Regions from separate parts of the Homo sapiens genome. Here regions 1, 3 and 4 are each linked to region 2. Evidence: fine-mapped expression QTL. A gene starts in region 2. Each other region holds a variant in brackets. All regions are shown on one strand. Distances are from middle to middle.

Evidence for each region.
Region 1: its variant is fine-mapped to the expression of GRINA in whole blood (TOPMed, PIP 0.98).
Region 3: its variant is fine-mapped to the expression of GRINA in whole blood (TOPMed, PIP 0.99).
Region 4: its variant is fine-mapped to the expression of GRINA in monocytes (CEDAR, PIP 0.95).

Annotation. Positions count from the first base shown.
Region 1 is chr8:143,966,860-143,974,859 of GRCh38, reverse strand. It overlaps a transcript of PLEC not described here. Among named protein-coding and RNA genes, the nearest start is that of PARP10, 16 kb to the left of the region's middle. RefSeq lists silencers at 977-1,106, 1,117-1,576 and enhancers at 1,310-2,157, 2,158-3,007, 7,733-8,000. The variant C/T (reference allele first, on the strand shown) is at 4,963.
Region 2 is chr8:143,986,073-143,994,072 of GRCh38, reverse strand. It overlaps GRINA (glutamate ionotropic receptor NMDA type subunit associated protein 1), which reads right to left and starts at 4,017. Exons shown (of 7, transcript NM_001009184.2): 1 at 3,874-4,017; 2 at 2,471-2,873; 3 at 2,269-2,381; 4 at 1,995-2,195; 5 at 1,700-1,828; 6 at 1,465-1,608; 7 at 658-1,381. The coding sequence starts at 2,849. The coding sequence ends at 1,232. It overlaps PARP10 (poly(ADP-ribose) polymerase family member 10), which reads left to right and starts at 7,613. Exons shown (of 11, transcript NM_032789.5): 1 at 7,613-7,715; 2 at 7,840-8,000. The coding sequence starts at 7,714. RefSeq lists enhancers at 1,771-2,272, 6,937-7,840, 7,511-7,950 and silencers at 2,936-2,985, 2,818-3,112, 3,036-3,295, 3,426-3,565, 3,586-4,085.
Region 3 is chr8:143,927,000-143,934,999 of GRCh38, reverse strand. It overlaps PLEC (plectin), which reads left to right. Exons shown (of 32, transcript NM_201384.3): 9 at 71-190; 10 at 270-365; 11 at 555-682; 12 at 909-1,002; 13 at 1,649-1,803; 14 at 1,889-2,207; 15 at 2,288-2,365; 16 at 2,439-2,600; 17 at 2,766-2,870; 18 at 2,968-3,063; 19 at 3,341-3,466; 20 at 4,464-4,616; 21 at 4,702-4,856; 22 at 4,938-5,064; 7 more. Among named protein-coding and RNA genes, the nearest start is that of PLEC, 8.6 kb to the left of the region's middle. RefSeq lists enhancers at 393-442, 1,851-2,786, 6,011-6,260, 6,651-6,780 and silencers at 733-842, 963-1,242, 6,395-6,524. The variant G/A (reference allele first, on the strand shown) is at 4,792.
Region 4 is chr8:144,061,942-144,069,941 of GRCh38, reverse strand. It overlaps a transcript of OPLAH not described here and a transcript of EXOSC4 not described here. Among named protein-coding and RNA genes, the nearest start is that of OPLAH, 5.2 kb to the right of the region's middle. The variant C/T (reference allele first, on the strand shown) is at 3,189.

The DNA.
Region 1 (8,000 bases), 19 kb after region 2:
TGGCGGCCAGGTGGGAATGTACAGGAGCAGTGTATAGGGAGGGGGTACCTGGTTGTCTGGAGCCCCAGCCTCTTCCTGAGCCAGGATCTGGCCTTGCTTTCCAGTAGCTCCCCATCCAGGGAGAACGATGGGAAGCATCCAGCGAGATGCTTGGGGAAGGGGGAGGGCAGGAGGGAAGTGGGTGACCTAGAGCTGTGCTAGGAGAGGGAGGAGCAGTAGCTCTCTAGGCTTTGGCTTGAGAGTCCTGACCTGTTCCAGCCGGAGGGCAGGGAGGCCCCTGCGGGAGGCCAGGAGAGGGCTGCAAGGCCAGGTGCTGAGCCCTGGGGGGATGTTGCAGACGACGGGAAGCGGGGCTGGTAGGAGCAGGAAAGAGGGAAGGAGAGGGTCACTGCTGTGCACCCAGCTCCAGCCCCAGGGTCTGGTTCCATCTGCATGACCTTCAGGGCTTTTCACAGCACACACGGACTTTAAAGAAAGAAGTCACTTTCTTCCCACTTGAAAGGGAATCACTTGTGTCGTTCCCACGCCTGGGCTTTCTTCAGCATCACCTTTACAGTTGTGGAGGAGTGTGGGGGGTCCCGAGGCCCCGGCTGACCGTGGTTGCCTTCGGTACTCACTGCAAAGGCTTTGCCCCCAGCCAGCACCTTCCGCGCCGGGGCTCTGCGTCCTCTGACGGTTTCCTTAGGACCGATTCCTGGAAGCGGGACTTGCAGTTACAGGACATATGGCATTAAGCTTGGAGAAAACACGGCCAGGGGCATCCCAGACAGGGTGGCCGACATTGGTGAAGGCGGGGAGAGCGGGGGCTTTGCCAATCTGATGGGTGGAAAGAGTTGTTTTAATTATCACCAAGCATTTTTTCCTTCTGTGAATGGGCTATTCCAGTCCTCGTATGTGTACTTAATTTTTCTTGTGTGTAGTGTTTTAAGGGTTCTTTATACCGACTCAGTCGTCTCCAATGTTGCAATGGGAAAGTTCTCAGCTGCACGCAGGAAGCAAGGTGGGGGGCGGGCAGGGGAGCGTCTCGGAGGCAGGTCGCCGGCCCGGCGGGGAACAGACAGGTCGCGGCCGCCCCTGGGCGGGGGCCACCCGAGGACCCCCGGGCGACCGCGGTGTCGGCGGCCGCGACCCGGGCGAGAACGGGAAAGGGCGTGCGTGCGGGACTCGGAGCCCGCGGAACCGGCCCGCCGGGAGGGGCCCAGACGCGGCTCCCTCTGCCCGGCCGCGGCGGCCCCGGCCCCGCCCCGCCCGTGGGGCATCCTGGGTGCGGGGGCGGGGCGGGGGCGGGGCGGGGGCGGCCTCTTTAAGCGGCGCGCGCGGCCGCGGGGACAGAGTGGCCGCCGGGTGCTGGAGGCTCCGCTGCACCCCGCGCCCCGCGCCCGCCGGCATGGCCGGCCCGCTGCCCGACGAGCAGGACTTCATCCAGGCCTACGAGGAGGTGCGCGAGAAGTACAAAGGTACGGCCCCCCGTCCCGCTGCCTGTCGGGCCGCTCCTGACAGCCCAGCCGCCGAGCACCTTGTCGTCCACGGTGGCGGTCCCGATCGCCGGCCCGAGCGCGGCCACTCCGCCGGCCTCGTCCGCCTGGATCGCCCCCAACGGCTGCCAGTGCCTAGGGAAGGGGAGGACTCGCTCCGCTGAGCCCCCGAGGCCATGCCCTTAATAGGGCATCGCGCGGCTCGGGTGGGTGGGGTGGGCCGCGGGCGGGTGGGGGCGCTCAGGGCTTGTCGGGGTCGGCTGTCTGAGCCAGGATCCGGTGTCTGTGGCCAGCAGACACATGGGTCAAGGCTGAGCCATCCCCTGCCCCACCTCTGGGGCGCGTCTGCATGGAACAGGGGCAGCTCCGCCGCCTGGCAATGGGTCACATAGTTGCCGCCTCTCCTCACCTCCCTAAACTGGCGAGGGCCTGGGCTGCCACCCTTCCTTGGCAGGGCACCCCCCCCACACCCCTTCTCTGTTCACTAGGGGACAGCTGTGGGCTAGGGGTCAGGGTGGCCCCTCCTTCCTCTCTAGGGGAGCATCAGAGTGGCCTGCCCACCTGCTTGATGCCTCGGCAGACCCCCTTGCCCTAGTCCACGCCCACGGGGAGCCCCTGGACCCTCCCAGGTCCTGGTCCCACCGGCCATTCTTGCAGCCCAGCTGCCTGGCTCAGCCTGGGTCGCCCGGCTCCAGGCGGTTGTGGACACAGCATTGGCTGCCGGCCTGCAGAGGCTTAGGAGCAAGGGACTGAGCTGCTGGGGAGGGTCGCGGTGGGGGCCCCCAGGCAGAGCCGATCAGAGCAGACTCCAGCTCCACGTGGCTGGTTTTGCTGGCTCTGCCCCCAAGGGCAGCTCAGGGAGAGAGGTCCTGCTGGGGCCCCGTGGTGCCGCTCTCCACCACAACCTTGCCCAGCTGGGTAGGTTTCATGGTGCCCCGAACTCATCTCCTTCAGGCGTCCTCCAGCGACGGCTCTGGGGCAGGGTGGATGTACTGCTGTGGCTCTCTTTGACAGTGCTGTGCCCAGCCGCTTTGCCTGTGTGACTAGTTCATTCGGGCCAGGGGAGACACTCCTGCACCCTTGGGGAGGCCTGGAGCGGGCAGCCTGTTGCTCATGCTCTACATGGCCGGCCCTGCCTTAGAGGGAGCACCCGGAGGGGTGCTGGGGTATAGGGCAGGGAAGCAGCCGCCCACCTGGGCTCCAGCCCTCCTGGCAAGCCCCAGGACAGAGCTGTTTCTGAGCTGACCACTCTGTTCAAAGTGCGGGAACTGTGCAGGATCGTTTCCTCCTGGAGTTCTTCATCTGGTCAGGTTGCTGGGCTGCCTGGGGTGCCCCAGCCTGTTCTGGGCATTGTGCTGAGGCTTTCCTGGCCCCAGGGCTGTCTTTCCTCTACCTCCTGGGGTGGGAACTACTTCTGATTCATCCAGGGGTGAGCCAGACAGATCCCTGGAGGTTGCTGGGACCCTCTGTCAGGGTCCTCCCTCCCAAGCGCAGCTCCTCTGGAGGCCAGGATTGGTGTTGGGCACACTCGCAGTCTTGGCCCATTGTCTGCCTTCTGGGCTTGGTGGTGGAGGCTGGTGAGGGGGCAGGGGGGCCGGGGGGCTTGCCTGAAGTGGAGTTGTCACGTGATGGTGCAGCTGCCCGCATGTGTGTGGCACTGGCCTGAGAGTGGCTAAACAGCAAGGCAGGTGCTGAGGCTCCGTGAGCACACCAGGTACCCCAAGTCTCCTTAGCTCCTGGCTTGAGACAAGGGGACGGGAGGGGCTGGGCTGGTACCTGTGTCTGGGAGCCACGGACCAAGGCTGAGGAGGGCCTGCAGGAGGTCAGAGGTGGCCCCTGTGCCCTACACCTTTCCAGGCCTGACCTCTGTGAGCCCCTTGGACCTGCTAGAGGGCTGGAGCCCCGGCCCTTCCTGTCCCTGGGGTGGAGGGACTGTGGGAGGGCATGGCACCCCTTGCCAGCCAGCCAGTGACGGCAAGGCAGCCCCAAATCCCTCCATGGTAAGCAGCTGCGGGCCCCTGTCCTGGGCCCAGCTCAGCATTTGGTGGTTCTGAGGAGGGCAGGGAGGCCAGGCCTGTGCCCCCTGCCCAGCTGATCCCTGCACTGAGGAGGTGCTCTGGCTTAGGCCTCCTGGCCTCCTCCCCTCTGTGGCATTGCCTCGGTTCCACCTCACTGTGCCCTCTCACAGACAACTCCCTGTCTGACCCTCACTCCGGTGACCTTCACCCCCCACCCCACAACGTCTCAGACCCTCCCCTGGACACGTCATTCCCTGGCTCTCCCCTGGAAATCCCCGGTCTTCCCTGTACAGTCAGGCGGCCACTGCTCCGCTTGGAACATCGCCAACTTCCTGTCTGCCTGAGCCCCTCAGCCCCCCCATTCTCCCTGTCCCCCATCCAGGGCAGATTCCTCTGGGGCTGAGGCTACTGCAGCCTGTGGCGGGAGAGCTCTGGGCACCCTGTGGGAGAGGCCTCCGTGCTGAGGGCTGTGGGCTGGTGACTTAGACAGTCGGCCCAGCTGCCAAGAGGTGTCCAGTCGCCCAGCGCCCCAAGCCTGGCCTGTGACAGCTCATAGAGGCTGGGCCGTTCTGCCGCACCATGGGAGCCTGGAGAGAGACCTGGGGTGGGTGTGGCAGGGCGGGGACAGTTCTAGGAGAGAGTTGTGGCAATGCAGGTGAGTGGAGGTGAGGCGGCCAGTCCATAACTGAAAAGAGAGCGGTGTTGCCAGGGGCTGGGTGAGAAAATATCCTGGAATTGACAGCTACACAACTCCGAATCTACTGAAACCACTGAATTGGACGCTTTGAATGGGTGAATGGTGTGGCATGTGAATTACCTCTCAATAAAGCTATTAAAAAATACTAATAATCAGCATGAGGTCAACCTAATTGGTACTGACATGAAAAGCCAGTGGCTCCAGAGGAAATCTCAGTCTGAGCTCCCTGTAAAGGGGCGGCCAAATCCGTGTGCTCTCTCCCGCCCTCTCTCATGCACAGCGATCGCCCCAGCCGGGAGCCTGAACCCAGAGGTGTGACTCTCCCCGTTTTTCTTTGTATACTTCCACCCTGCTTGATTTTTTTTTTTTTTGGAGCGTTTTACTTTTGACAGTAAACACCGACCAAAATTCCTCTCCAGTGAGCCCCAAATAACCTCCAGCCTGCCCTCTGCCAGCTGAGCACCAACCACTGCAGATGACGCCCTACGCCATCACCCACTCACCCGTGCAAACACCCTGCAGTGCTGGCTGAGGGCCTGGGGCCAGTGCCAGGGACACAGATAACCAAGCTCAGAGTCCAGGACAGGGGAGAGTAGGGGACACATGAGGAGGGGGCCAGGCACAGTGGCACTGGGCAGGCCCAGGGCTGGCAAGGGGTCCTGAAGAGAGTGCAGGCCACAGGCTGGGCACACGCCCTGTGGAGACCCAACACACCCAGCCCCTCTCCAGGCCCGCTTTTCCCCCAGACCAATGCAGGCCTCCCACCCCTGGC[C/T]CCTGCCCCACACCAACGCCACCCACTCACCAACGGTACTCACCCCGGCCTCATTCTCACCCCTGCTGCCCTCTCCAGGACCACCTCACAGCACCCCTAAGCCCCACTCCCATCCCTAACATGACAACCTAAAGTCTCTATCCCCAGCTGCCCAGGCCCCCGGCTGGCCCCACTCCCCACTCCCCGGCCTGCACTCATGCCCTGACCCCCAGGACAGGCCCCTGCCCACAACGCTGGACTGCTGCTGGGCCGCTCTTTCTTTCTTCACTGACCGCCTCACCTCCACTCACCTGCATTGCCACAACTCTCTCCTAGAACTGTCCCCGCCCTGCCACACCCACCCCAGGTCTCTCTCCAGGCTCCCATGGTGTGGCAGGACGGCCCAGCCTCTATGAGCTGTCACAGGCCAGGCTTGGGGGGCTGGGCGACTGGACACCTCTTGGCAGCTGGGCCGACTGTCTAAGTCACCAGCCCACAGCCCTCAGCACGGAGGCCTCTCCCATAGGGTGCCCAGAGCTCTCCTGCCACAGGCTGCAGTAGCCTCAGCCCCAGAGGAATCTGCCCTGGATGGGGGACAGGGAGAATGGGGGGGCTGAGGGGCTCAGGCAGACAGGAATGGTTATGGATTGGCCTGTACTGGCCCTGGGTCTGGCCTCTTCGACTTGCCGGGACGCTGTCAGGGCTGCTCACATCGCCGCGCCATCAGCACCTCACCCTCCCCCCGCTGGAGTCGGTTCCGTGGTGTGGAAGTGCCCACTTTTGCTTATGCGTTTATCAGTTGACGGATAGTGGGTTGTTTCCACCTTTTGGCTGTTATGAGTGAGGCTGCTATGGACGTTTGCATACACGTTTTTGTGTGGTCGTATGTTTTTTATTTCTGCTGGGTAGATACCTAGGAGTGGAATTGCTCAGCTGTGTGGTAATTCTATATTTAACCATTTTGAAGAACTGCCAGATTGCTTCCTAAAGCGGGCGTGCCATTCTGCATGCCCAGTAACAGCCGGGTGCGAGGTTTCCAATTTCCTCACATCCTCACCAACACTTGTTATTATCTGACTCTTTGATTGCAGACATCCAATCCTAGTGGGTGTCGAGTGGAATCTCATTGTGGTTTGATTTGCATTTCCTGATGGCTAATGACGTTGAACACTTTGGTGTGATTGTTGGCCATTTTTTATATCTTTTGAGAAATGTGTATTTCAATCCTTTGTCCATTTTAGAATTTACCTTTTGGTATTTTTGAGTTGTAAGTGTTCTTTATATATTCTAGATGCCAGTCCTTTATCAGAAATATGATTTGCAAACATTTTCTGTTTCTGTGGTCTGCCTTTTTATTTGCTTGCTGGTGTCTTTTTTTTTTTTTTTTTTGAGATGGAGTTTTGCTCTGTCACCCAGGCTGGAGCAGGTTCAAGTGACTCTTGTACCTCAGGCTCCCGAGTAGCTGGGACTACAGGCGTCTGCCACCACACCTGGCTAATTTTTGTATTTTTAGTAGAGATGGGGCTTCGCCATATTGGCCAGGCTGGTCTCAAACTCCTGGCCTCAGCCTCCACAGTGCTGGGATTACAGCGTGAGCCACCTCACCTGGCCGGTGGTGTCCTTTGAAGCACGTACATTTTAATTTTAATTATTATGACTCCAGTTTATCTATCTTTTTCCTTGGTTGCTTGTGCTTTTGGTGCCATATTTAAGAAGCCATTGTCTAATCCAAGTCATGAAGCTTTACACCAATGTTTTCTTTTCTTCCTTTTTTTTTTTTTGAGACGAAGTCTCGCTCTGTCTCGCTCTGTCACCCAGGCTGGAGTGCAGTGGCATGATCTCAGCTCATTGCAACCTCTGCCTCCTGGGTTCAAGCAATTCTCCTGCCTCTGTCCGCCGAGTAGCTGGGATTACATGTGTGCGCCACCACACCTGGCTAATTTTTGTATTTTTAGTAGAGATAGGGTTTCCCCATGTTGGCCAGGCTGGTCTTGAACTCCTGACCTCAAGTAAGCCACCTGCCTCAGCCTCAGTGCTGGGGTTACAGGTGTGAGCCACCGCGCCTGGCCTGAATTCTTTGATTATTAATTAAGCTGAGCACATCTCCTAGAGTTGTTGACTATTTGCACCTTTTCTTTTGTGAACTGCCTATTCACAAGCATTGTTGGCCAGGCTGGTCTTAAACTCCTGTGCTCACATGGAAATGGAATCAAGGGATCCTCCTGCCTTGGCCTCCCAAAGTACTGGGATTACAGGTGTGAGCTGCTGCCATGCCTGGCTACTACACCTTTTTACATCAGGGACTTGAGCATCTGTGGATTCTGGTATCCATGGGGAGTCCAGAACCCATCTCCCGCTGATACCGAGGGACACTTGTATTCGGCGTAAACTTCGAAGTTGCCTGTGGGCAGCACCAGCTCACGGAACAGAACTTTTCAGCTCCTGGAAAGTTCCTGCTGAGTCCCCACTGGGCACACCATGGATGGGTCTCACACCACGCATCTATTTTTGTTTAATTCTGTCTGTTTCTTTTTTTTTTTTTTTTTTTTTTTTTTTGAGATGGAGTCTCGCTCTGTTGCCCAGGCTGGAATGCAGTGGCGCGATCTCGGCTCACTGCAACCTCCGCCTCCCGGGTTCAAGCCATTCTCCTGCCTCAGGCTCCCGAGTAGCTGGGACTACAGGCGCCCGCCACCATGCCCAGCTAATTTTTTGTATTTTTAGTAGAGACGGGGTTTCACCGTGTTAGCCAGGACAGTCTCGATCTCCTGACCTCGTGATCTGCCCACCTCGGCCTCCCAAAGTGCTGGGATTACAGGCGTGAGCCACCGCGCCTGGCCTAATTCTGTCTGTGGTTTCTTTAGCCATATCAATTTTTAACACTCACCAGTCTTTTATGATTTCTGGATTTTATGCTATGCTTAAAATGGCCTTCTTTTAGAAAAACATCTGCTGAGAGTTGCTTCCAGCACTGCTGCATTTTTTTAAACATCTCTGTCGTTAATCTTTGTGGAATTTGCTTGGGGCTGAGGTCGAGATGTTCAAGGAGGCTCGATGTCATG
Region 2 (8,000 bases):
GAGAGCTCAGCAGGGCTCAGACCAGCCAGGTCCCAGGCAATGGAGGGACCCCCTGCAGGAGCAGCAGGCGTCACAGGGCAGGAAACGCACTGCAGGCTGGGGCTGAGGGCTCCAAAGGACCGGGCCTGGGCAGGCCAAGGGGCCCAAATGGCTGAGCCCTCAGTCTCTGTCCAGCTCTTGGACGGGATCTCCAGCCTGTGTTTCTCATGGGGAGGCTGGAGAGAGGCAGGCCTGGGTGGAATATCAGGGTGCCCACACAGATGGACTGCACAGAGCTGGGGAGGCCCAAGGAGCGCCCAAGGAGCATGGCAGGCTGCCCTGGGGCAGGCCAATGACCTGTGCCGCTGGCCCAGGCGACAGAAGAGTGAGGCGGCTATACCGTGCCATCTCCACGGAGCACCTGGTAGACACAGCCAGGCCACTTACCATTGGGGTACCCCAGCACAGGCTTAACTCACTCTGGGCACCCCAGGGTCTCTGTCCATCAGTTGGGAACCCAACACACACCTTATGATGTAGCTGTGTGTGGGCAGAGGCTTGGCACTGTATTAATCTCCACTATTCATTTCTGGTCCTGTGTCTCCATCAGCAGGGAGGGCCTGGAGCCCCTCCCAACTTCATGTTGAAAGTGGCAGGGAGAAGAGTGACCAGGGGAAGGCAGAGAGCAAATCCCATTTATTGGAATTTCACTGACAACAAATTGAGAGGAAGGCTTCCCCCTCCCCTGAAACATGCCATCCTCTCTGCCCTCAGGGCTCAGCACAGGGATAAGACCCCCACTCCGCATGTCCCCAGAGGGCAGCACTCCAGGGGGGTGGGGGGGAGGGGAGGGGTGCTCTACGCCAGGCTGGGGAGCTGGGACAGGAGGGAAGACGTGCACCCTCACCTCTTGGCTCAATCCCTCTCCCCGGGACCTGGTGCTGCCCCCAGTCCCTGGGGTGGGCTGGCAGACAGGGCTCATGCAACAATGAGTAGACAGGAGGTGGCACGGAAACGTGGCCTTGGTGCCCCTTGGCGGGGGCGGGAGGACTAAAGGGGCCATGCTGTGGCCACAGCGGGTCCAAATGGAAGTATCTGCAGTGTACATACAGGAGGGTTGGAGAGAGGCATCCTTTTCCCTAGGCTGTGCCTGGGGACAAGAGAGAGGGGAAGTACAGCTGGCACTGCCGTGCCAGGGGCAGGGTCCAGGCCAGCCGTGCCACCTGAGCGGGCACAGCGAGCTGGAGCTCGGCTACTCCTTGGCGCGGCCAATGATGGTGAGGATGTACAGGAAGATGTTGATGATGTCTGTGTACAGGTTCAGCGCAGCAAACACATACTCTTCTGGGCTCAGGGACAGCTGCTTGTTCCCCAGTAGCAGCTGGGTGTCCACTGCGAGGAACTGGAGGTGACAGCACAGTGGTGTTGAGGGACAAGCCTGCCTGCCCAGCATCCCGCCCCCGGCCAAGGTCACCCCTCACTCACGCAGGTGAAGAGCAGAGCGCCCAGTGAGGCGTACACGATCTCCAGGATGCGGTTCCGGATGAAGATGCAGAGAATGGCGAAGATGAAGAGCACCACCATGCTCACCAGGAGCACGCCCATGCATGAGGTGAAGTCGTAGCGGGTCTGCAGGTGGGAGAGGAACGGGCCATGGGGCTGGGCCTGGGAAAGCTGCTCAGCCCCTGCGGCCACAGCCCAGCCACGGGAGGCCCCTCACCTGCATGGAGAAGATGACGACGGTGAAGCAGACGGCTGTGGTGATGCCCACGGCCATGATGACTGCCTCGGTGTTGTAGAAGCTGGCGATCATCCCCACCATGTACGACAGGCTGGCGGTCAGGACCGACTGCAGTTGGGAGACACAGGCTGACCTTGGGTGTGTGCCCCCATGCCACCCCTGCCGGCCCCTGCCTCATGAGCACAAGGAGAACCACGGTGACCAGGCCCGGAAGAGTGGGCGTGTGGGACTGCATGGCCGGACCCAGGCACAGAGGCTCAGGTTTGGGGGTTACCAGTGCAACAAGGTTCCAGGGGTGCTTTCGCCGGAAGTCCCCACAACAGCTGAGGACGATGAGAGAGATGAAGAAGACAGCATAGGAGACATAGTAGGTCCAGACATTCTCCCGGACAAAGCCCTTCACCTCCGCAACAAAAGTGAACACAGACACCGTGGACAGGGTCACCGACAGCTGCAAGGTCAGCACTAGGAACACCTGGGGAAGGAGCCGCTCAGAGTCATCCGCTGGGAGCCACAGCCCCCACCGCCTTGGAGATGCCCCTACCCACCTTGCGGATGAAGGCCTGTCGGATGCTCTTGTCATCCCAGTTGGTGGCAGGGAAGTCCTGGTTGTCATAGTAGGATGGGGGACCCTCCTCCTGGTAGTTTCCATGCTGGGGTGCTGAGAAGCAGACAGGCTGGGTCAGCGCCACTCACAAGCACCTCCCCCTGCCCTCCCGGCCACCCCACCCCTCCCTTCCTGAGACTCACAGTCAGGGTCTTGTCCTGGGAAGACCTGTGGCTGTCCATAGGGGTTGGGGGGGAAGGGGCTCTGGGGATATGGCCCCTGGGGGTAGCCCCCTTGGGGGTAGGGGCCCTGTGGGTAGCCCTCTTGTGGGTAGGGGCCCTGTGGGTAGCCCCCTTGGGGGTAGGGACCCTGTGGGTAGCCCCCTTGGGGGTAGGGGCTGGGGCCATGGGGGTACCCTGGCTGACCGTAGGGGGAGGGCTGGAAAGGGGGCTGTGGGTAAGGGGCCCCAGGGTAGGGAGGCTGAGCATAGGGGGGCATGGGTGGCTGGGGCCCCCCCGGATATCCAGGGTTGGGGGGAGGATAGTTGTCCCCAGACACCAAAAAACTCTTTTCATGGGACATGGCCTCGGGTTCCGCGGTCCGCCCCTAGAGAAGACAGACAAGGAACAGTGGAACAGTTGGCTTGACGACAGCGTCGGGACCCAGCCCTGCGCAACTCCACCTGCTTCTGGGAACCCAGGGGGAAGCAAGGGAAGACCGTGACCTTTGCCCCGGGCTGTGGGGAGCCCCGGAGCCTGGGCCCGGAGAAGCGCGTGAGGACCGGACGGGCGGCGCCGTGGGGCCTTCCCAGGGCTCTAGGCCGCCTTTAGGGTGGGGGAGGGGCCGGGCGAGGGGACGACCGCCAGCCTCGGGATTTGGGGCTTGGGTCGTTTCTCACAAGCAACCGGAGGCCTGCGCCGCTGCCGGCGTCTCCCGGGTGGGAGCTCAGCGCGGAGGCTGGGGTCTCGGCCGGGGACGTGTGGGGTGTGCCCGGACCCTCCCCTCCGCATCCCGCCCCTTAAGCAGCTTTAAGGGGCCGGAGCCGGCGGCTATTTCTATCCCAGGAAATCCCCGGGCCATCTGTGACCAACAAAGGCCCGAGCCCCCCCACCCCCGCGAGCCCAACAACAGGGCCCAACGGCCCCTGGCTCCGGGGTGGGGGGATCGGGCCTGGATCGGCTGCCGGTGCCTGCCAGTGGGGTACGCCGGGAACAGCGGGGTGCGGGGGTGTGTGGGGGATGGAAGCGACCACGGGGCGTGCGGGGAACAAAGCGGGCGTGGGGCGAGGCGGGTAGGGGCTGCGGCCGTGGCACTGGCACCGAGAGCGGATGGGCCCTCCGCGGGCCGGGGGCGCACAGGGTCACGGGTCCAGCAGTCGCCGCAGCGCGCCGCCCCCTCCCTCCGGCTCCAGGCCGCCGCGGCTCCCCGCCCCCACCACCGCCGCCACCTCTGGCCGCGAGCTGCCGCGCGCCCCGGCCGGACCAACTTACTGACCCGAGGCGGCCACGCTCGGATGCGCAAGATCCGCGTGGGGGCGGGGGCGGGGGCGGCAGGCCGCGCGGCGCAGCGGGTCAGAGGCGCTCCTGGGCTCGGGCCGGGGACTCACCGGTGGCCGGGCGCCGCAGGCCGGTACGCACGGTGTCCGCTGCGCGGCCGCGCGGTGATGGCCGATGCGCCCGCACCCGCACCCGCTCGGCGGCCGCTCAGCTGGGCCTGCGCCTGCGGCTCGGAAGACGCAGCGGGGCCTTGTGACGGGGCGGGGCAGGGGGCGGGGCCGGGCGAGCTTCGGGGTGGGAGGGGCAGGTGGGCGGGGCTTCCGCGGACCCCTCCCGCTGCGCCGCCTTGCGTGTTCCTCTTCGCTCCGGCCAGAGGCCCGCCTCTCACTGTCTGCCGAGGGGTGGGGTCGGGCGGTGGGCGCTGAAGACCCCTGGAGGCAGAAGTCTGGTCTGGCCAATTTGACTGGCCGTTCGGTAGTTAAGAAATTTATTCCTAAATGCGGGATTTGCTGAAGCTGCCCGGGACTGACCGTCCGTTCTCGGCCTTAAAACCCGACGTTCACTTCTTTTCATCCAGATCTCTCCCAAATCAAGAAGCCTAATCCTTTAGTTCCCAAATCGAGGCCTCGTGGTTTAATTGCCCCATTTGCTCTGTCAGCCCAAACTCTGCCAGGCCTGCTACTAGAGACCCTTTTTTATTTTTTTAATTCTTGTGGATACATAGTAGGTGTATATTTACGGGCTACATGGGATGTTTTGATACAGGCATGCCATGGATAATAATCACATCAAGGTAAATGGGGTATCCATCAGCTCAGGCATTTTGTCCTTCGTGTTACAAACAATCCAGTTATACTCTTGGAGTTGTTTTAAAATGTACAATTATTCTTGACCACAGTCACCCTTTGTACTAACAAATACGATGTCTTGTTTTCACACTAGAGACCCTGAACGCTCGCTTGTCTGCCTAACGTCCTCACAAGCTGCGAGGGGCTGAGGCTTGGGGATGCAGCAGGACTGGAGGCCAGGCCACCTCCCTGCTTAGCTCCCAAGTCCTCTTGGGGGAGCAGTGACTGACACAGGCAGGGTACATCCTGCTGCCAGCCTTCCCACCCGGGGCCCAGACCCCACCTGCCCTCCCGCCCTTGGAGGGCCGGCCTCTCCCAGGCCGCTCTGAGTCCTGCACCTATGGTGCGCTGGCGCAGTGTTTAGCAGCCGGACCTAGTGAGGGGAAGCCTGGGGTGCGTGTTTTGCACATGCGCGTGGTGTGAATACTCCACCGGGGCTGGTTTCAAGTTACCCCCAGCTGGACAACCAGTCCACAGAAATTCCCGAAACTGTACCAGTCTGCTTGTGGTGTGAGTGGTGCCTGTGGCAGGCCCTCTGCAGCCAGGGTCGGCGTAATGGATAACCTGTGATGAGTTCCATTAGAGAAAACGTGGAAAAAGCAGGGATGGATTTACCCTTGTAGAAGGTAACTTCTACCTTTGTAGAAGCAGAAGCTCACAAAATTTGAGAGACCTTTAAGAAAAATAAAATGCTTGCTGGGCGCGGTGGCTTACGCCTGTAATCCCAGCACTTTGGGAGGCCGAGGCGGGTGGATCACAAGGTCAGGAGATGGAGACCATCCTGGCTAACACGGTGAAACCCCGTCTCTACTAAAAATACAAAAAAAAATTAGCTGGGCGTGGTGGTGTGCACCTGTAATCCCAGCTATTGGGGGGGCTGAGGCAGGAGAATGGCTTGAACCTGGGAGGCAGAGGTTACAGTGAGCTGAGATCGTGCCACCGCACTCCAGCCTGCGTAACAGAGTGTGACTCTGTCTCAAAAAATAAATAAATAAGTAAATAAAAATAAAATAGCTGGGTATGGTGGCTGGCACCAGTAATCCCAGCACTTTGGGAGGCTGAGGCAGGTGGATCATCTGAGGTCAGGAGTTTGAGACCAGTCTGCCCAATAGGGTGAAACCCTGTCTCTGCTAAAAATACAAAAATTAGCTGGGCATGGTGGTGCGTGCCTGTAATCCCAGCTACTTGGGAGGCTTAGGCAGGAGAATCCCTTGAACCCAGTGGGTGGACGTTGCAGTGAGCCGAGATCACGGCACTTCACTCCAGCCTGGGTGAAAGGGCGAAACTCCGTCTCAGAAAAAAAAAAAAAAAAGGCAGAGTAAGGGAGATCATGCCAGAGGGGTGGCCATGGGGGTTTGTGGGGAAGGTAGGGCCAAGCAGAGGGAAGGGCCAGTCCCAGGCTACTGAGGCAGGAGTGGCCTGTAGCTCTGCAGGAAGAGCTGAGAGCCTGGAGCCCTCTGAGCATCAGGGTGTGCAGGGGGCATGGGGCCAGAGAAGGGACTGAGGTCTGGTCAGGTGCAGCTGGGCAGGGGGCAGGTCCTCAAAAGGACTTTGGGTTTTTGTTTTTTTTTTAGACAGAGTCTCACTCTATCACCTTGGTTGGAGTGCAGTGGCACGATCTCAGCTCACTGCAACCTCCACCTCCCAGGTTCAAGCTATTCTCCTGACTCAGCCTCCTGAGTAGCTGAGATTATAGGCACCTGCCACCATGCCCGGCTAATTTTTATATTTTTAGTAGAGACAGGGTTTTACCATGTTGGCCAGGCTGATCTCAAACTCCTGACCTCGTGATCCACCTGCCTCAGTCTCCCAAAGTGCTGGGATTACAGGCATGAGCCACTGCGCCCGGCCCCCAGGACTTTGGTTTCTACTGTTGCTGATGCTGGGAGCTGTAGCAGCTGCTGGTGTCATTTTACAAGGCTCACCCTGACACCTCTGTTGAGGACCCACCATGGGAGTGGCAGACAGAGACTAGTTAAGAGGTTAGCCTAGCTACCTAGCGAGAGATGCTGGAGGCTGGGACCAGGGTCGGGGCAGCAGAGGTGTGGCATGTGCAGGGCTAGGAGTGCAGGCTGGCCAGGGTCCTCAGCTCCCTGGAGGGAGGAACAGCAGGGGTGGGGCTGGGTTTTGGTGGGCTGAGGGGTGAGTGGGAAGTAGGAGATGGAGAGTGGTAGTGGCCACAGCTCTTTGAAAGGCTGGAAGCAAACGGAGCTTGGGTGATGTGGGAGATCTGTGGCGAGTGGGAGTGTGGACTCTGAAGGCACCGCCCAGGTTTGAGGCCTGGTGCTGCTATGGGCCTGTCTGCACCTCCGTTTCCCTTTCTGTGGTGAGGATTAGCGGCAGCAAGGAATGCAGTGGAGCCATTACCTTGTCACCTTCTGAGGTTACTTGTGACGATGCCAATGATGGTGTGAGATGGGGAGGTGCAGGCAGGACAGAAAGCTGCAGGAATGGGCAGGCAAGACCTGAGGCGGGAGGAAGGCTGTGCTGCAATGCACATTCTTGGAGACCAAGGGTGGGGAACCGCCCATGCTCAGCACCTGGCAGGTGTGAGGGACCAGGAGCAGGGTTGAGAAGGTTGCTGGGGGCGTTGAAGGCCAGCCTTGGCCGGGGGCGGGCCTGGAGACCCAGCACTTTGTGTGCAGAGGGTGTCATGGACACAGAGGCTTGGAGATCCTGAGTGAGGGGCAGTGACTCAGGCCCCTTGGTGGGTTTAGTGGGGCGGGTGATTGGCCATTTTCAGGCCATGGAGGCCAGGGGAGTGGAGGGCCACCAGGGGACACTCCTGTCTACCCTGCCAACCAGGGGCTGGAGTGGGCCAGGTAGGGCCGGTGGGCTGGGCTGGGTTGGCTGGAGGGTCCTGAGGGGTCCAGCCTGGCCAATACCTCCTGGTCAGCTGGGGGTTGAGGCTGCAGCAGGAGAGGAAGCATCTGAGCCCCAGTACCCAGGCCTCAGCGCCCAGGGCCCAGCTGCTCCCTCCCTCCTTCCGTCTTTCAGTTTCACTTTTGTTTTCCTGCTCCCAGCAGGGTTAGGCTTGCTGAGGGGCAGGCACAGGAGTCCTGGCTGAGCTCATGGCCTGAGGCTGCCTAGCGGCCACGGGGAATGTAAGTGCTGTATGTGGGGCCACCCATAATGGGGGAGCATTGAGGACACACCTTGGAGGGGCCTGGGGAGGGGCAGGAGGGGTGGAATGGGCTGTTTCCCTACCCACCTGATGCCCCGTCCCAGGGTTGCAATGGCGGAGGCAGAGGCAGGGGTGGCAGTGGAGGTCCGTGGACTGCCCCCTGCCGTGCCCGACGAGCTGCTCACTCTCTACTTTGAAAACCGCCGACGCTCTGGAGGGGGACCTGTGTTGAGCTGGCAGAGACTGGGCTGTGGGGGCGTCCTCA
Region 3 (8,000 bases), 59 kb after region 2:
GCCCGGAGGGCAGGGGGCTTGGGCCTGGACGCCCCGACGACCCCTGACAGCCGCCCGTGCCTGCCCGCAGGAGCTGCAGCTGCGCTGGCAGGAGTACCGGGAGCTGGTGCTGCTGCTGCTTCAGTGGATGCGACACCACACGGCCGCCTTTGAGGAACGCAGGTTCCCCTCCAGCTTCGAGGAGATTGAGGTGGGCCTGCCGTGGGGGGCGGGGTCCTGGGCCTGCCCTGAGAGCCCGGCGTGGTTGCCGACAGCCTCGTCCCTGGCAGATCCTGTGGTCTCAGTTCCTGAAGTTTAAGGAGATGGAGCTACCAGCCAAGGAGGCCGACAAGAACAGGTCCAAGGGCATCTACCAATCCCTGGAGGTGAGTGGGACCGCTGGAGGGGTGGGTGGTGTCCTGGAACGCCCCAGGCCTGAAAGGTTCTTCCGGAGCCGACCTGGCCCTGCCTTTGGGACCAGGGCTGTCCCAGGTCTGGTGGGCTGGGGTCTGAAGGCCCAGCGCCCCACCCCCTGCCCCCTGCCTATAGGGCCTGAGTGTGGCCCCTGTCTACAGGGAGCGGTGCAAGCAGGCCAGCTCAAGGTGCCCCCTGGCTACCACCCGCTGGATGTGGAGAAGGAGTGGGGCAAGCTGCACGTGGCCATCCTGGAGCGGGAGAAGCAGCTCCGCAGCGAGTTTGAGAGGTGGGTGGGGCCCTGTGGTGGCAGGGGAACCACCCGAGGGTGTGTCACTGCCTGGGAAGGAAACCCCCCTCCCCGCCCCGCCCCCGGCGGGGGAACCCAAGCTCCCACTCGCCTTAGGACAGTGGGCCACAGCCAGGGAGACCGGAGCGGGAGGCGAGCTGCAGTCTGTGGCCAGGGCTGTGCCGGACCCGGCCAACGCGGCCCCTTCCCTGTGCTGCTGCTGCAGGCTGGAGTGTCTTCAGCGCATCGTGACCAAGCTGCAGATGGAGGCGGGGCTGTGTGAGGAGCAGCTGAACCAGGCCGACGCCCTGCTGCAGTCGGTGAGGGGGTGTGGGGCAGGCAGTGGGCGGGAGGGAGGCCGGAGGAGCCTGCCCCGCCCTGCAGCCCTAAAGCCAGGAGGGGGCTGTCCCCCTGGGCTCCTGGGGCAGGGGCAGGGGCAGGGGCGGGGCATGTGGTGGGGAATCCAGGCCTGAGCTCCTCCCTCCTCGTGTGCAGCTAACTCTCACTGCCTGCTTTGGGCAGAGTTGGTTTCTGGCCACGGGGCAGAACCCACGCTGGGCTGCCTTGCCCCCGCCAGGCCCCCTCCCCGACAGCGGCTTACTGTTAGGGGAGGGGTTGGGGGAGGGCCCAACCCACTGCTGATTGCCCAGGAGGACAGGGCCCACGTGGCATTACAGGAGGAGTTACCCAGGGTGGGTGATGGAGGATGAGGCCCAGGACCCCACAGACATGGTCATGGGGGTCTCGGTTCTTGGACTGGGCTAAGTACTCTGGACTTGGTCCCAATCCCCCAGAAGGCCAGTAGGAAGATGTGTGAGGTGGGCAGGGAGGGAAGGGGAAGGACAGGGATGGAGGCAGTGGCCCACTGAGGCTGAGGAAGCGGCTGAGGGTGGCCGTCTTGGCCGGGGCCCCTGTGAGGTCAGAGGGGGATCAGCTGTGCTCCGAGTCATGGCAACGACCTTGCAGGATGTCCGGCTGCTGGCTGCAGGCAAAGTGCCACAGCGGGCGGGGGAGGTGGAACGGGACTTGGACAAGGCGGATAGCATGATCCGGCTGCTCTTCAACGACGTGCAGACCCTCAAGGATGGACGGCACCCGCAGGGCGAGCAGATGTACCGCAGGTGGGCCCCGCCCTGCCCTCCCTGAAGCCCAGGTACACACGGCCCCAGGCCCGCCAACACCTACCTGAGTCCTCTGCTGCCCCAGGGTGTACCGTCTGCACGAGCGCCTGGTAGCCATCCGCACCGAGTACAACCTACGGCTGAAGGCAGGCGTGGCGGCCCCTGCAACCCAGGTGGCCCAGGTGACTCTGCAGAGTGTGCAGAGGCGCCCCGAGCTGGAGGACTCCACTCTGCGCTACCTGCAGGACCTGCTGGCCTGGGTGGAGGAGAACCAGCACCGTGTGGATGGCGCTGAGTGGGGTGTGGACCTGCCCAGCGTGGAGGCGCAGCTGGGCAGCCACCGAGGCCTGCACCAGTCCATCGAAGAATTCCGGGCCAAGATCGAGCGGGCACGGAGTGACGAGGTGGGTGGCGCTGAGCGATGGGCAGTGCGGGGGTGGGCCGGGCCCAGCCACTGCAGACCTCACCGTCTCATCTGTTGCAGGGCCAGCTCTCCCCCGCCACCCGGGGTGCCTACCGTGACTGCCTGGGTCGGCTGGACCTGCAGTACGCCAAGCTGCTGGTGAGTGGGGGCAGGGCCAGCCGGGGGAGGTGGGTAGCCCGCGGCCTGCTGACACGCACCCTCCTGCCCACAGAACTCCTCCAAGGCCCGCCTCAGGTCCCTGGAGAGCTTGCACAGCTTTGTGGCAGCCGCCACTAAGGAGCTAATGTGGCTGAATGAGAAGGAGGAGGAGGAGGTGGGCTTCGACTGGAGCGACCGCAACACCAACATGACCGCCAAGAAGGAGAGCTACTCGGTGAGCGGTGGCCCAGCTGCCCTGAACCCCACAGCCCCCTCCCCAGCTGTGCCCTGGCCGTCCCCTATGGTCAGAGACCAGTGGGGGCCCTGGGTCGAGTTTGCTGGGAGCGTGGCAGAGCCGGGTGTGGCCGGCCGTCCCTGAGACCCTTTGCTCTGGTGCCAGGCGCTGATGCGGGAGCTGGAGCTGAAGGAGAAGAAGATCAAGGAGCTCCAAAATGCTGGGGACCGGCTGCTGCGGGAGGACCACCCGGCCCGGCCCACGGTGGAGGTGGGGCTCCCTGGGTAGGGGCGGGGCTGCGGGGGGGGCCGTGCCGGGTCCCCAGGCGGGGCGGGGCGGGGCCTGACCGGGACCTGCTGTCCCGCAGTCCTTCCAGGCGGCCCTGCAGACGCAGTGGAGCTGGATGCTACAGCTGTGCTGCTGTATCGAGGCACACCTGAAGGAGAACGCTGCCTACTTTCAGGTGAGAACCGGAGCCCCCTCCGCACTGTGGCTCAGCGGCAGCCTTGCAGGAGCCCCTGGACCCCCTCGGCAGCTCCAATCAGGAGCCCTCCTGTCTGCAGACGTTGCCAGCTGCTGCCTGCAGCCTGACCGGGGCCTTGGACAGGGGTGCTCCCCAGGCCTCCTGGGGGCTTTGCCACTCCTTCCTCAGTGCCCCCGTCTTGGGCCTGCCCTGGGACAACTGTGGGCTGGGGCTCTGGTCCCAGGTAGCCTGGCGTGACCCCCTCCCGCTGCCCCAGTTCTTCTCAGATGTGCGGGAGGCCGAGGGGCAGTTGCAGAAGCTGCAGGAGGCACTGCGTAGGAAATACAGTTGTGATCGCTCCGCCACCGTCACCCGGCTGGAGGACCTGCTGCAGGATGCCCAGGTGAGGGAGGGGGTGTGCAGGGGCGTGTCAGGAGGGGCTGGCCTGGAGTCTGGGCTGCACGGGTACTCTGGAGACTAGGGGGCAACTGGAGGGGCCAGCAGGAGTTGGGAGGCACCATGGGAGGTGTAGAGGTCAGCCGAAGCGGGAATGAGGCAGGATGTTCTGGGCTGCATGGGTACTCTGGAGACTAGGGGGCAACTGGAGGGGCCAGCAGGAGTTGGGAGGCACCATGGGAGGTGTAGAGGTCAGCCAAGGGGGGAATGAGGCAGGATGTGGGGAGCCGAGAGGCAGCCGGTCCAAGCCGGGCCGCCCCCATCTCCATAGCCACAGAGTGAGTGGAAGCCTGAAGTCAGCAGCTGCCGCCAGCCCTTGTGCTGTAGAAGGGGCACCGCCAGCCCTTGTGCTATAGAAGGAGCACTGCCAGCCCTTGTACTATAGAAGGGGCACCAGCTGTTTGGCCTGAGATCTGGAGCGGGCAGAGTGGAACTGGGCTTTGTGCTCTGGGAGCAGGGGTGGGATCACCCAGGAGGGCGGGTGCACAGTGGGGAGTGACAGGGAAGAGGGACTGGAGACTGAAATGGCCTCTGAGGTCGGCAGGGCTGGGCCGGGGGGAGAGCCGGCAGCTCCCAGGTGTGTGCCGTCCTGCGGCCTGGCCCCCGCAGAGGGGTGGGATGGGAGGAGGCAGTACCTTCTGCAGCCCGCAGGGGAGGGGCAAGGGGCGAGGGCATTGTAGGGACCAGAGCGTAGCTGGGAGGACATGGTGGGTGAGCTGGGGTGAGAGGAGGGTGCCCTGTCTGGGTTGGGAAGGAGCGAGGGTGCATGGGTCTGCTTGGGGCCAACCCCCGGGGCCTGTCCCAGCTATACCTCCTGCTTCCAAGTGCTGCCACCCCGGGAGCATCAGGAGGGCCCCACAGGCCTGGTCCCGGGGTCTGGGGGTGCCTGGGGCAGGCCTGTGGGTCTCCATGGCCCTCGTCTGGATGCTGCCCCTCCCCCACAGGACGAGAAGGAACAGCTGAACGAGTACAAGGGCCACCTCTCAGGCCTGGCCAAGCGGGCCAAGGCCGTCGTGCAGCTGAAGCCCCGCCACCCAGCCCACCCCATGCGGGGCCGCCTGCCCCTGCTGGCCGTGTGCGACTATAAGCAGGTGGAGGTGAGCGCAGGCCGGGGGTCCACTGGGGGGCGTGGCCAGGCAGGGCAGGGTGTGGCCATGTCCTCACCGACTCTGCCCGTCCCAGGTGACTGTGCACAAGGGTGACGAGTGCCAGCTGGTGGGCCCTGCACAGCCGTCCCACTGGAAGGTGCTCAGCAGCTCCGGCAGCGAGGCC[G/A]CCGTGCCCTCCGTGTGCTTCCTGGTGCCCCCGCCCAACCAGGAGGCCCAGGAGGCCGTCACCAGGTGGGTGGCGGGGGCTCAGCAGGTGGGGGCTGGAAGGCGGGTGGGGCGCTGGTGACGCTGACTGTAGCCCTGACCTGCCAGGCTGGAGGCCCAGCACCAGGCCCTGGTCACGCTGTGGCACCAGTTGCACGTGGACATGAAGAGCCTTCTGGCCTGGCAGAGCCTTCGCCGCGACGTGCAGCTCATCCGCTCCTGGTCCCTGGCCACGGTACGCCTGCCCCCGAGCCGGGGGCTCTCTGGGTGGGAGGAGGGGAGAGGCGTTGTGCAGGGCACGGCCGCCTCGCCCGGCACTCAGCCCCACGTGCTTCCCCCAGTTCCGCACCCTGAAGCCAGAGGAGCAGCGCCAAGCCCTGCACAGCCTGGAGCTGCACTACCAGGCCTTCCTGCGGGACAGCCAGGACGCGGGCGGCTTCGGACCCGAGGACCGGCTGATGGCTGAGCGCGAGTACGGCTCCTGCAGCCACCACTACCAGCAGCTGCTGCAGAGCCTGGAACAGGGTAGGGCACGGCAGGGCTGGGGCGGTTGGGCTGGTGCGAGGTGGGCGGTGGAGTGACCCACATGTGTTCCCCAGGTGCACAGGAAGAGTCTCGCTGCCAGCGCTGCATCTCCGAGCTCAAAGACATCCGGCTGCAGCTGGAGGCCTGTGAGACGCGCACCGTGCACCGCCTGCGGCTGCCGCTGGACAAAGAGCCGGCACGGGAGTGTGCCCAGCGCATCGCCGAGCAGCAGGCAGGGGCCGTCCCCCCCCATCCAGTCCCATCCCTCTCCCCATCCCTCCTCCCACCCTCCCTCCTTTGGCCTTCAAGGGGCGCTGTGTGCTGCGCTCGGTGATGAGTGCGTTCCCACTCCCTGTCTTTGCAGAAGGCACAGGCAGAGGTGGAGGGGCTGGGCAAGGGGGTCGCCCGGCTCTCTGCCGAGGCCGAGAAGGTCTTGGCCCTACCAGAGCCATCGCCTGCGGCCCCCACGCTGCGCTCGGAGCTGGAGCTGACGCTGGGCAAGCTGGAGCAGGTCCGCAGCCTGTCTGCCATCTACCTGGAGAAGTGAGTGCACCTGGCCACAGGCGAGGGGCTGGGGTCGGCTGGGGGGTGCTGGGGTGAGGGCTGTGACCTTGCAGGAGGGTGCAGGAGGGAACGAGTTGGGGGCTGTTCAGAGATCTGGCCAGGAGGCGGGAGGCCCAGCTGGGGTGGTGGCCGCAGAGGTGGTGAGAAGAGTTCAGGGCTGGATACGCTTCGACAGTGGCGGCCGGGGGACTTCCTGGTGATGAGATTCGGGTGTGGGGAAGAGACAGTGGAGCTGGGCAGCGGCTGCTGAGTGAGGTGGGGAAGCTGTGGATCCACTTTCAGTGGCACAGTAAGGAATCCTGCACCCTGCCTCTCGTCTGTCCTGTTCCTGGCCTGGACTTAAGGGCCTCTGGCATTTATTTCCAATGTGTTATGTCATAGTCTCTTCCTGTGTTGCAAACCACAGGTCCACCCGCTGTCTACTCCTCACAGAACCAGCACAGTGATAGGGCCGCCGCCTCTTCCTGTGTTGCAAACCACAGGTCCACCCGCTGTCTACTCCTCACAGAACCAGCACAGTGATAGGGCCGCCACCTCTTCCTGTGTTGCAAACCACAGGTCCACCCGCTGTCTACTCCTCACAGAACCAGCACAGTGATAGGGCCGCCGCCTCTTCCTGTGTTGCAAACCACAGGTCCACCCGCTGTCTACTCCTCACAGAACCAGCACAGTGATAGGGCCGCCGCTGGCTACCACAGGGTGCCATTTCCACCCCGGTGTCCCCTTCGCCCAGTCTTGGGCTGCAAGGGCTGAGAACTACGCTTCCAGGCCCTGTGGGCACCAGGATGCCGCTGTCATCCAGCCAGTGGGCTCGTCCTGTCTCGGGGCCTTGGGGTCTGCCGTTCCTGGCTGGCGCACCCCCTCTCCAGGCTGGGTCCTGAGTGTCCTTGTGTTACAGAGGCTCCCAACCTCCTTCTCCCCAAGGCTGTTCTTCTCCTGAAGCAAGCCTCTGACCACAGGGTCAGCTGACCCCCAGGGTTGGGTCTGGGCTTGGCAGGCAGCACCCTGGGTCGCTGTGGCTTGGGTTCCATTCCCTTGGGCTATTGCTCGAGCCCCATGTCATGGCCCTGAGCCCCGCTTTCCCGCCAGGCTCAAGACCATCAGCCTGGTGATCCGCGGCACGCAGGGGGCCGAGGAGGTGCTCAGGGCCCACGAGGAGCAGCTCAAGGAGGCCCAGGCCGTGCCGGCCACCCTCCCGGAGCTCGAGGCCACCAAGGCCTCTCTGAAGGTATCGTTTCGAGGCTTGGGCTTCATGGCGGGGTGGGGGTACAGCGGGCCCAGCTGAAGCCGCACATGTCCCTCCTGTCCCCAACAGAAGCTGCGGGCCCAGGCCGAGGCACAGCAGCCCACGTTCGACGCCCTGCGGGATGAGCTGCGGGGGGCACAGGAGGTGGGGGAGCGACTGCAGCAGCGGCACGGGGAGCGGGACGTGGAGGTGGAGCGCTGGCGGGAGCGGGTCGCCCAGTTGCTTGAGCGCTGGCAGGCTGTGCTGGCCCAGACCGACGTGCGGCAGCGCGAGCTCGAGCAACTGGGCCGCCAGCTGCGTTACTACCGCGAGAGTGCAGACCCCTTGGGCGCCTGGCTGCAGGACGCCAGGCGGCGGCAGGAGCAGATCCAGGCCATGCCGCTGGCCGACAGCCAGGCTGTGCGGGAGCAGCTGCGGCAGGAGCAGGTGGGCTTGGGTCGGTGGGGACGGGGCGGCTGGGCGTGCCCTGCGGCCACGGCTCTGACCACACCATCACCCAGGCCCTGCTGGAGGAGATCGAGCGCCACGGCGAGAAGGTCGAGGAGTGCCAGAGGTTTGCGAAACAGTACATCAACGCCATCAAGGTGAGGCCCAGCCGCCTGCACCAGGCCCCAAGTCCGGGACCGTTGCCAGGATGATGGCGGGCTTTCCCTGAGCCTGGGCCATGCCAGGGAAAGCCCATGTGAGGGTTTAGGGGCTGGGCAGGGGCCATCGGAGGGCAGAGCTGGTGGCTGACCGCAGTGCATTGCCACAGGACTATGAACTCCAGCTGGTGACGTACAAGGCGCAGCTTGAGCCGGTGGCCTCCCCGGCCAAGAAGCCCAAGGTCCAGTCGG
Region 4 (8,000 bases), 76 kb before region 2:
ATTAATGCTCTGGACTAGTCACCCTGGCGTTTAGTGCTTCTTTCTTTGGAAACCCAATAGGCTCAATCTTGTGACAGTTTGGGGCACTCCCTTGGGGGAACCCCCATGCTGCTGTTTTTGGGGTGATTCCAGCCTGGGGTTCGGTGGGATAAAGCAGCTCCATCCTTTGCTGATGGATGTGTGTGTGGTTGGAAAGCTTTCCAATCTGCTCCGCATTCAGCAAGCGTGGTGGCTAAATAACAACCCCAAAGACACTCAGGCCCGAATCACTGAAGCCTATGAATGTACCTCATTTGGCAAAAAAGACTTTGCAGATGAGATGCAGTTAAGGAGGCTGAGGCGGGGAGGCGATCCCGGGTGACCCAGTGGGCCCTGAATGTCATTCCAAGCGTCCTTTAGGAGGGAAATGGAGGGAGATTTGACTACAGGAGAAGAGAAGGCTGTGGGACCACCTGGGTAGAGATCAGAGTGATGTGGCTGCAAGCCAAGCAGTCCCGGCACACACCAGGAACTGGAAGAGGCAGGGCACCTGCTTTCCTCTGGAACCTCCAGAAGGAACCATCCCTGTAAAAGCCTTGATTTTAGCCCCATAAGACTCATCTTGGACTTTTGGTCTCCGGGACTGTAAGATAGTAAGTTTCTGTTGTTTTAAACCTGCAAGTCTGTGGTGATTTGTGAGGGCAGCAATAGACAGCCAGCACACCCAACCACTCAGCCTGGGTGCAGCCTGGCACCGGTGCAGAGGCTTCTGGACTCCCAGGGGTGGATGCAGTATCTGCAGGATCCTTTCTTTGTTGTCTCTGTCCCTGGTTTTCAGCTACACTCCAGGCTGGCCTGCCATTTCATTTGCTGCTATCAGTTTCACACAGCTGTCCGCTTTTTCCTAATTGCTCTCCACTGAGCTTCCCACAGCCTGCCACGCACCTTAGGCGTGACTTTCCCACACTGTGCTTCCTAAGGAAGGCAGCCCCATGCAGCAGCCAGCCCTGCCACCGCGTCTCACTGGGGCAGCATCTGTGGACCTGGGGGTGGGCGTGGTGGCCTGCTTCTCCCGGAGTGAGACCCCTGTGCTGTGGCAGGTGTTGGGGGACGGGAGGCCTCGTCTTCTCGGCGTGTCCCTCCCTATGTGGTGCCTCTGCCTTGCAGCCAGGAGCTGGGAGGAAGGAACCCGTGTCCTCAGCTGCACCTCCTGGAGTAGAGCTTTTATGATGGAGCCAGGGACCGGGGGAAGCAGGCTGAGCTCAAGCACCACAGATTCCCCCTGTTCTGATCAAGACTTAGTAGATCTTCTTGAATAAATGCTTCTTGCTTTGCTGTATGCCCCTTGGTCAATTTCCAAAGTGAGAGGGCTACACAGCCCACTGGGCGTCCTGCCCTGTGTGGGGTCTCAGGTGGAGGCCCGGAGAACACAGAGCGTCACTTCCCCACACTCTTCCCGCACAGGCCAGTCAGATTCCACAGCATGAGAACTGGACTTGCCTCCCAAGGGCCAGGGCAGCGTGTTCGTCTAAAGTGGCAGCCATGGTGGTGGTGTCAACTGAAGAATGGCGAGGTTTATACATTTGGAAAGGAGAGCTTTATTTCTCATAAAGGGTTGCAGTCTGCAGGGCGGCCATTCTGACAGGCAGGGAAGCGTAGCCTCCAGTCAGAAGTCAAAAACAGACACTTCATGGGAGGGGCAAGGGGAACAGGAATTTATGCTGAAGGGAGTGGCCAAATATACATATTCAATGAGCTATAAGAGGAGTCATGAATATTTATGAAAGGGGAGCACACAAACGCACAATTTAGCTTCATGCCTCCCCATGGGACTCATGTTCAAAAAATGGTGGCATTATCGTGATCTGAGGGTGGGGTTTTCAGGCTTCCAGCGTCAAATGGTGCAGCAGAGGACACAAAACCCCTCCCTGTGCTTCCTCCATAGCCGTAGAGCCACTCCGTGGCCAGTGGTCTCTATCAGGAAGGAATGCAGGCTGGCAGGTTGTTTCGGCAGGTTGAACCTCCGCCTCTTGGGTTCAAGCGATTCTCCGGCCTCAGCCTCCCAAGTAGCTGGGATTACAGGCATCTGCCACCATGCCCGGCTAATTTATGTATTTAGTAGAGATGGGGTTTCACCATGTTAGTCAGGCTGGTCTCGAACTCCTGACCTCAGGTGATCCATCCGCCTCAGCCTCCCAAAGTGCCAGGATGACAGGCGTGTGCCACTGTGCCCGGCCAACACATTTTCTATCTTTGTTCATCTTGAACTGTCTTTATTTCACCTTCATTTTCAAAAGTGGTTTTCCTAAATATCGGATTCTTGCTTGACAGTGTTTTTCTGACTTTGAGTCTTCTGGTCTCCACTGCTTCTTCTGAGGAGTCAGGTGTTCATCTTATTTGGGGTTCTCTTATATGTGATGAATCATTTTTTTATCTTGTTAACTTTCAAAGCTTTCTCTTTGTCTTTGCTTTCCAGTATTTTTACCATGATATGTCAACTCCTGGAAGCTGCCCACATTCCTTGCTCTGAGACTCCCCCAGCAGTGGAGACTCTCCCCTGTGTGGAATCTCTTTCATGCTTTGAGTTCTTTCCACTGGAAAGAGACCCATCCTTTGGAAGGATCACGTGATTAGGTTAGGCTCACCCAAAACCATCTCCTTTATCCCCCAGCAGTGTCAAAAAACATAACCTAATCATGGGAGTAAAGTCCATCTTATTCACAGTCCTGGGGATTATGCACGGCATGTACAGCAGGAAATCCTGGAAGCCTTCTGAGAATTCTGCCTATCACGCTTTACCCTCTGGCTTTCGGAGTGTGTGAGTTGAAAGTTGACTGACTGAGCCTCTCATTCTTTTTTTTGTTTTTTTGTTTTTGAGACAGAGTCTCACTCTTGTTGCCCAGGCTGGTGTGCAATGGTGTGATCTCGGCTCTCCACAACCTCTGCCTCCCAGGTTCAAGCGATTCTTCTGCCTCAGCCTCCCGAGTAGCTGGGATTACAGGCATGCACCACCACGCCTGGCTAATTTTGTATTTTTAATAGAGACGGGGTTTCTTCACGTTGGTCCGGCTGGCCTCAAACTCCCGACCTCAGGTGATCCGCCCGCCTCGGCTTCCCAAAGTGCTGGGATTACAGGCATGAGCCACCTCGCCTGGCCGAGCCTCATTCTTTTGGGGTAAAATCTCTCCAACTATCAGAAATACTCTACT[C/T]CAGGCCAGGCTTGGTGGCTCATACTTGTAATCCCTAATCCCAGCACTTTGGGAGGCCAAGGTGGGTGGATCACCTGAGGTCAGGAGTTTGAAAACAGCCTGGCCAACAGGGTGAAACCCTGTCTCTACTAAAAATACAAAAAAATTAGCCAGGCATGGTGGCACACACCTGTAGTCCCAGCTACTTGGGAGGCTGAGGCAGGAGAATTGCTTGAACCCAGGAGTCGGAGGTTGCAGTGAGCCGAGATGGTGCCATTGCACTCCAGCCTGGGTGACAGAGTGAGACTCTGTCTCAAAAAAAAAAAAAAAAAAAAAAAGAGAAAAACTCTACTTTGGCCAGGTGTGGTGGCTCACACCTGTAATCCCAGCACTTTGGGAGAACAAGGCAGGAGGCCAGGAGTTTAAGGCCAGCCTGGGCAACATAGTGAGACCCCGGGCCAGGTGCAGTGGCTCACGCCTGTAATCCCAGCATTTTGGGAGGCCAAGGCGGAGGGATCACGAGGTCAGGAGATAGAGACCATCCTGGCTAACACGGTGAAACCCTGTCTCTACTAAAAATACAAAAAAAAATCAGCCAGGTGTGGTGGCGGGCACCTGTAGTCCCAGCTACTCGGGAGGCTGAGGCAGGAGAATGGCCTGAATCCGGGAGGCAGAGCTTGCAGTGAGCTGAGATCACGCCACTGCACTCCAGCCTGGGTGACAGCAAGATTCCATCTCAAAAAACAAAACAAAACATAGCGAGACCCTGTTTCTACCAAAAAAAAAAAACAAAAAAACTAGCCAGGCATGGTGGTGCATGCATCTGTGGTCCCAGCTACTTGGGAGGCTGAGGTAGGAGGATCCCTTGAGCCTGGGAGGTCAAGGCTTCGATGAGCTATGATTGCACCACTGCACTCCAGCCTGGGTGACAGAGTGAGACCCCATCTCAAAAAAAAAAAAAAGTAAATAAAATAAAATAAAAAAATAAAAATACTCTACTCCATTTTCTTCCTAATTATAGGAATTATTTTATTGTAGTTGAGACAGAGTCTTATTCTGTTGCCCAGGCTGGAGTGCAGTGGCACGATCTCAGCTCACTGCAACCTCTGCCTCCCAGGTTCAAGTGATTCTCCAGCCTCAGCCTCCTGAGTAGCTGAGATTACAGGTGCCTGCCATCGCGGCCAGCTAATTTTTGTATTTTTTTTTTTAGTAGAGATGGGGTTTCACCATGTTGGCCAGGTTGGTCTCGAACTCCTGACCTCAGGTGATCTGCCCGCCTCAACCTCCCAAAGTGCTGGGATTACAGGTGTGAGCCCCTGCACCCGGCCGAGAATTAAATTGTCACAATTTCTGTTGGGATTCAGTACAGTTGCCCCCAGTCTCCTGGAGCACTAGTCTCAGGGGCACTGCCCCCACTCGCACAGGTGAGGGGCCCTGCGATGGCTCCACTCGAGTAGCCAGGGAAAGGAGTTTGAGAATCCCAGGACAGTCTACAAATCAGCAAGTGGAAACTAGACCATCAAACAAGCAAAAGAGAAAAATGATGTAAAATACATAATAATCATAATGTAAGAAAAAGCCAGAAAACCAAAGTAACTGTGCAGAAGTGTCCCTTTAAAGACAGATTGGAGGCTGGGCGCGGTGGCTCACGCCTGTAATCCCAGCACTTTGGGAGGCTGAGGTGGGCAGATCACGAGGTCAGGAAATTGAGACCATCCTGGCTAACACAGTGAAACCCCGACTCTACTAAAAAAAATACAAAAAAATTAGCCAGGCGTGGTTGCGGGCACTTGTAGTCCCAGCTACTTGGCAGGCTGACGCAGGAGAATGGCGTGAACCTGGGAGGCGGAGCTTGCAGTGAGCCCAGATGGCGCCACTGCACTCCAGCCTGGGCGACAGAGCAAGACTCCATCTCAAAAAAAAAAAAAAAAAAAGACAGATTGGATAGAAGAAGAAAGTCCTTTATGTGATCTAAAATGCAAACCACTGTCACCACTGAGGGTGAGGGTGGCTCTCCTGTCCCTGGGGAGGTGTGTCTTTAGGTCCTGGTCCTCAGCCTCTGGTGGGCCGCCTGGCCCATCCCCTTCCTTGAGGTTATGGCCCAGATGTGGTGCCTCTTCCAGGGCACCTGCCTGCTCGCTGCAACCTCCATGTGACAATGCCAAGGCCCTGTGCCCCCAGAAACAGGCCCAGCCTCCCTTGTGGTGGCTCTAGCACTGCCTGGTGCATCCCTTGGCCTGCAGCCCCCTCCCATGCTGTCCTAGCGTGCTCTCGGCTGGCTCTGCCCCTGTAGCCCTGGCCTGCCCTGGTTGCTGCTGTCCAGCTCCTGCTGTTGCTGGGCCCCATCCTGCAGGGCAGCCACGCACCCACCCTTCCTGATCCCTTCAGAAGCTGTGCCAACCGTGACTGCCGACATACCACACCTGGTTGCCTAAAACTATGTCCTGGCATGGCCAGGCCTGGAGGCTGTGGCTGGTGGCCAGTGGGCTGTCAGACGGGTGGGTGCGGAAGCCTGCATCCCATATCCCTTCCCCCACGACACACCTGGGCTTGGCCGGGTCAAAGAAGCTTCCATCTTCTAGGAGGAGGATTCCTGGAGTGAGCCAGAGACCTGGGACAGTTCTGGGCACCCACTGGCCATTTGGCCCTCAGGGGGCTGGAGGTCAGAGGTCAGGCCACCTCTGCCACGGGGTGGTTGGAACAGCTGGGTCCTGACCCTGAAGGCCCGGAATGCGGCTGAGGCGAGGGGGCAGGGGCAGCTGCTGACCTCACAATAGCAGGGTCTGCTGTCCCTGGCCGGCCTGCTGGCCCCCGCCAGCTGCCGCCGCTGGCTGCCAGGCATGTCCCTCCTCAGCAGCTATGAGGGCCTGCGGCAGGAGATCCAGCGGCTGGCACAGGAGAACGAAGAGCTGCGGCGGCTGGTGCAGCTCATCCAGGAGAACCAGGAGCTGAAGCTGGTGCTCAGGAACCGCGGCAGCAGCCTGGGCTTCTGCAGCTCCGGGTTCCTGGCTGAGGTGGCTGCCAGTCCCTGGCTACCCAGGCGGAGAACGATCAAATTCAAGAATGCTGAGAGAGGTGAGCCGTACCGGGGCCCCAAGACTCTGTGGAGTTGGGCAAACCCGCTGGGTGCTGCGGTGCCTCTGGAGCAAAGCCAGGGCCCTGGGGCTCTTCCAGGATGTGCGGCGGGGAGAAGGTGCCAGGTCTGGGAAAGTGACCTCTGAGCAGAGCCTGAGCGGGCGAGGGAGCTGCCAGGCTGGGGCGCGGCTTTCCAGGCCCAGGGAACAGCCTGTGCCAGGCCCTGAGGTGGGTGCAAGTTGTCTGTGCCTGAAGCTGTCAGAGTCACTGCAACGGCAGACTCTGTCCTCCCAGCCCTGCGCTCTCTGGTGGTGGGGACAGCCATATCCCTGGGGGAACGTGATGGAAGCCTGGCCGGGGTGGAGGTGTGAGAAGTAGCAGCTCTGTGTTCTGAAGGTGAAAGTAACAGGACTTCTGGCAGATTGCGTGTGGGGATGAGAATGGGGCTGGGGCAGCTCGCTGGGTGGGGGAGCCGCTGCTGGAGTGGGCCACTGGTAGGTGGCCTGGGGCTTGGTTTTGGGACGTGTCTGGCCATGCAGTCAGAGGCGCCACTAGAGAGTAGGGGCCGGGCCATCCCGCAGGCCTGGAGCTGCCTCTGGTTGCTGTGGAGGGGCTGCGTGGCATTGCCAAGGGGAAGCTGGGACCCAGCAACATGGAGGGACAGAGATAAAGGCCCAGTGGGGTAGGAGGCAGGTGGGGCAGCCAAGGGAGGCCTGAGCCTGGGTGGGTGGGGGTTGGCTTTTGTTGGTCTGCCCCCGAGACGCGCAGTGGAGTGGGGTCAGGAGAGCCCAGGAGGCAGGCGGAGGTGGGGGAGGTGGACACCTGGAGGTGCACGGCAGTGGGATGCCGCTAGGGAGCGTGGGGACAGGCCCTTAGAGGTTTCGTCTGTGAGTGGATAGCACAGGCCCCTGGAGTGAACAGAGAGGCGAGGGGGTGGCTGGGGATGGTGGAGGGCAGTGAGAGAGTTTGGGGTCTACAGCACAGGCCTGGCGGGCAGCCTGAGTGCGTACAGGGCAGCAGATGGTGGGGGTGTGGGTGGGTGGGGTGTGGGAATCTCTCCTGATAGATCCTGGGCTGACAGGCAGGACCAAGAGGCTGTGCTGGGGATGGGTGGAAACCAGAAGGCAGGGCAGTCCCGCAGGAGTGTGGGCTGGCCAGGCAGAGGCTGTATGGCTGGTGGGGAAGGTCCTCGGCTGAAGTGGGGTTGCTGACCAGAGCTGCTTCCCACGGACTGCTCAGAGCAGGCAGGTGGGGCTCCTGCATGTGGGCGTGGCATGATCATCTGGGGCCTCAGCTGGGCCTCAGGATGGGAAGGCACTAGGAGGTCCATGGGCATGGGGTCTGGGGGTGGCATCACAGCAGGCACGTGCCACTTACAGGGCAGTCATCTGGACATGAGCAGCAGCCCATCCATGGGGAGGGGTTCCTAAGTGCCTGATCCTGGGCCCCATCCCTGTCTATGGGGAGCTGGAGTCCACTGCCCTTGGCACAAATGTTACAGGAAAGGGGTCCCAATCCAGACCCCAAGAGAGGGTTCTTGGATTTCTTGAAAGAAAGAATTCAGGGCGAGTGCCTAAAGTGAAAGCACGTTTATTAAGAAAGTAGAGGAATAAAGAATGGTTACCCCATAGACAGAGCACCCCGAGGGCTGCTGGTTGCCCATTTTTTTTTTTTTTTTTTTGAGACGGAGTCTCACTCTGTCGCCAGGCTGGAGTGCAGTGGTGCGATCTCATCTCACTGCAAGCTCCGCCTCCTGGG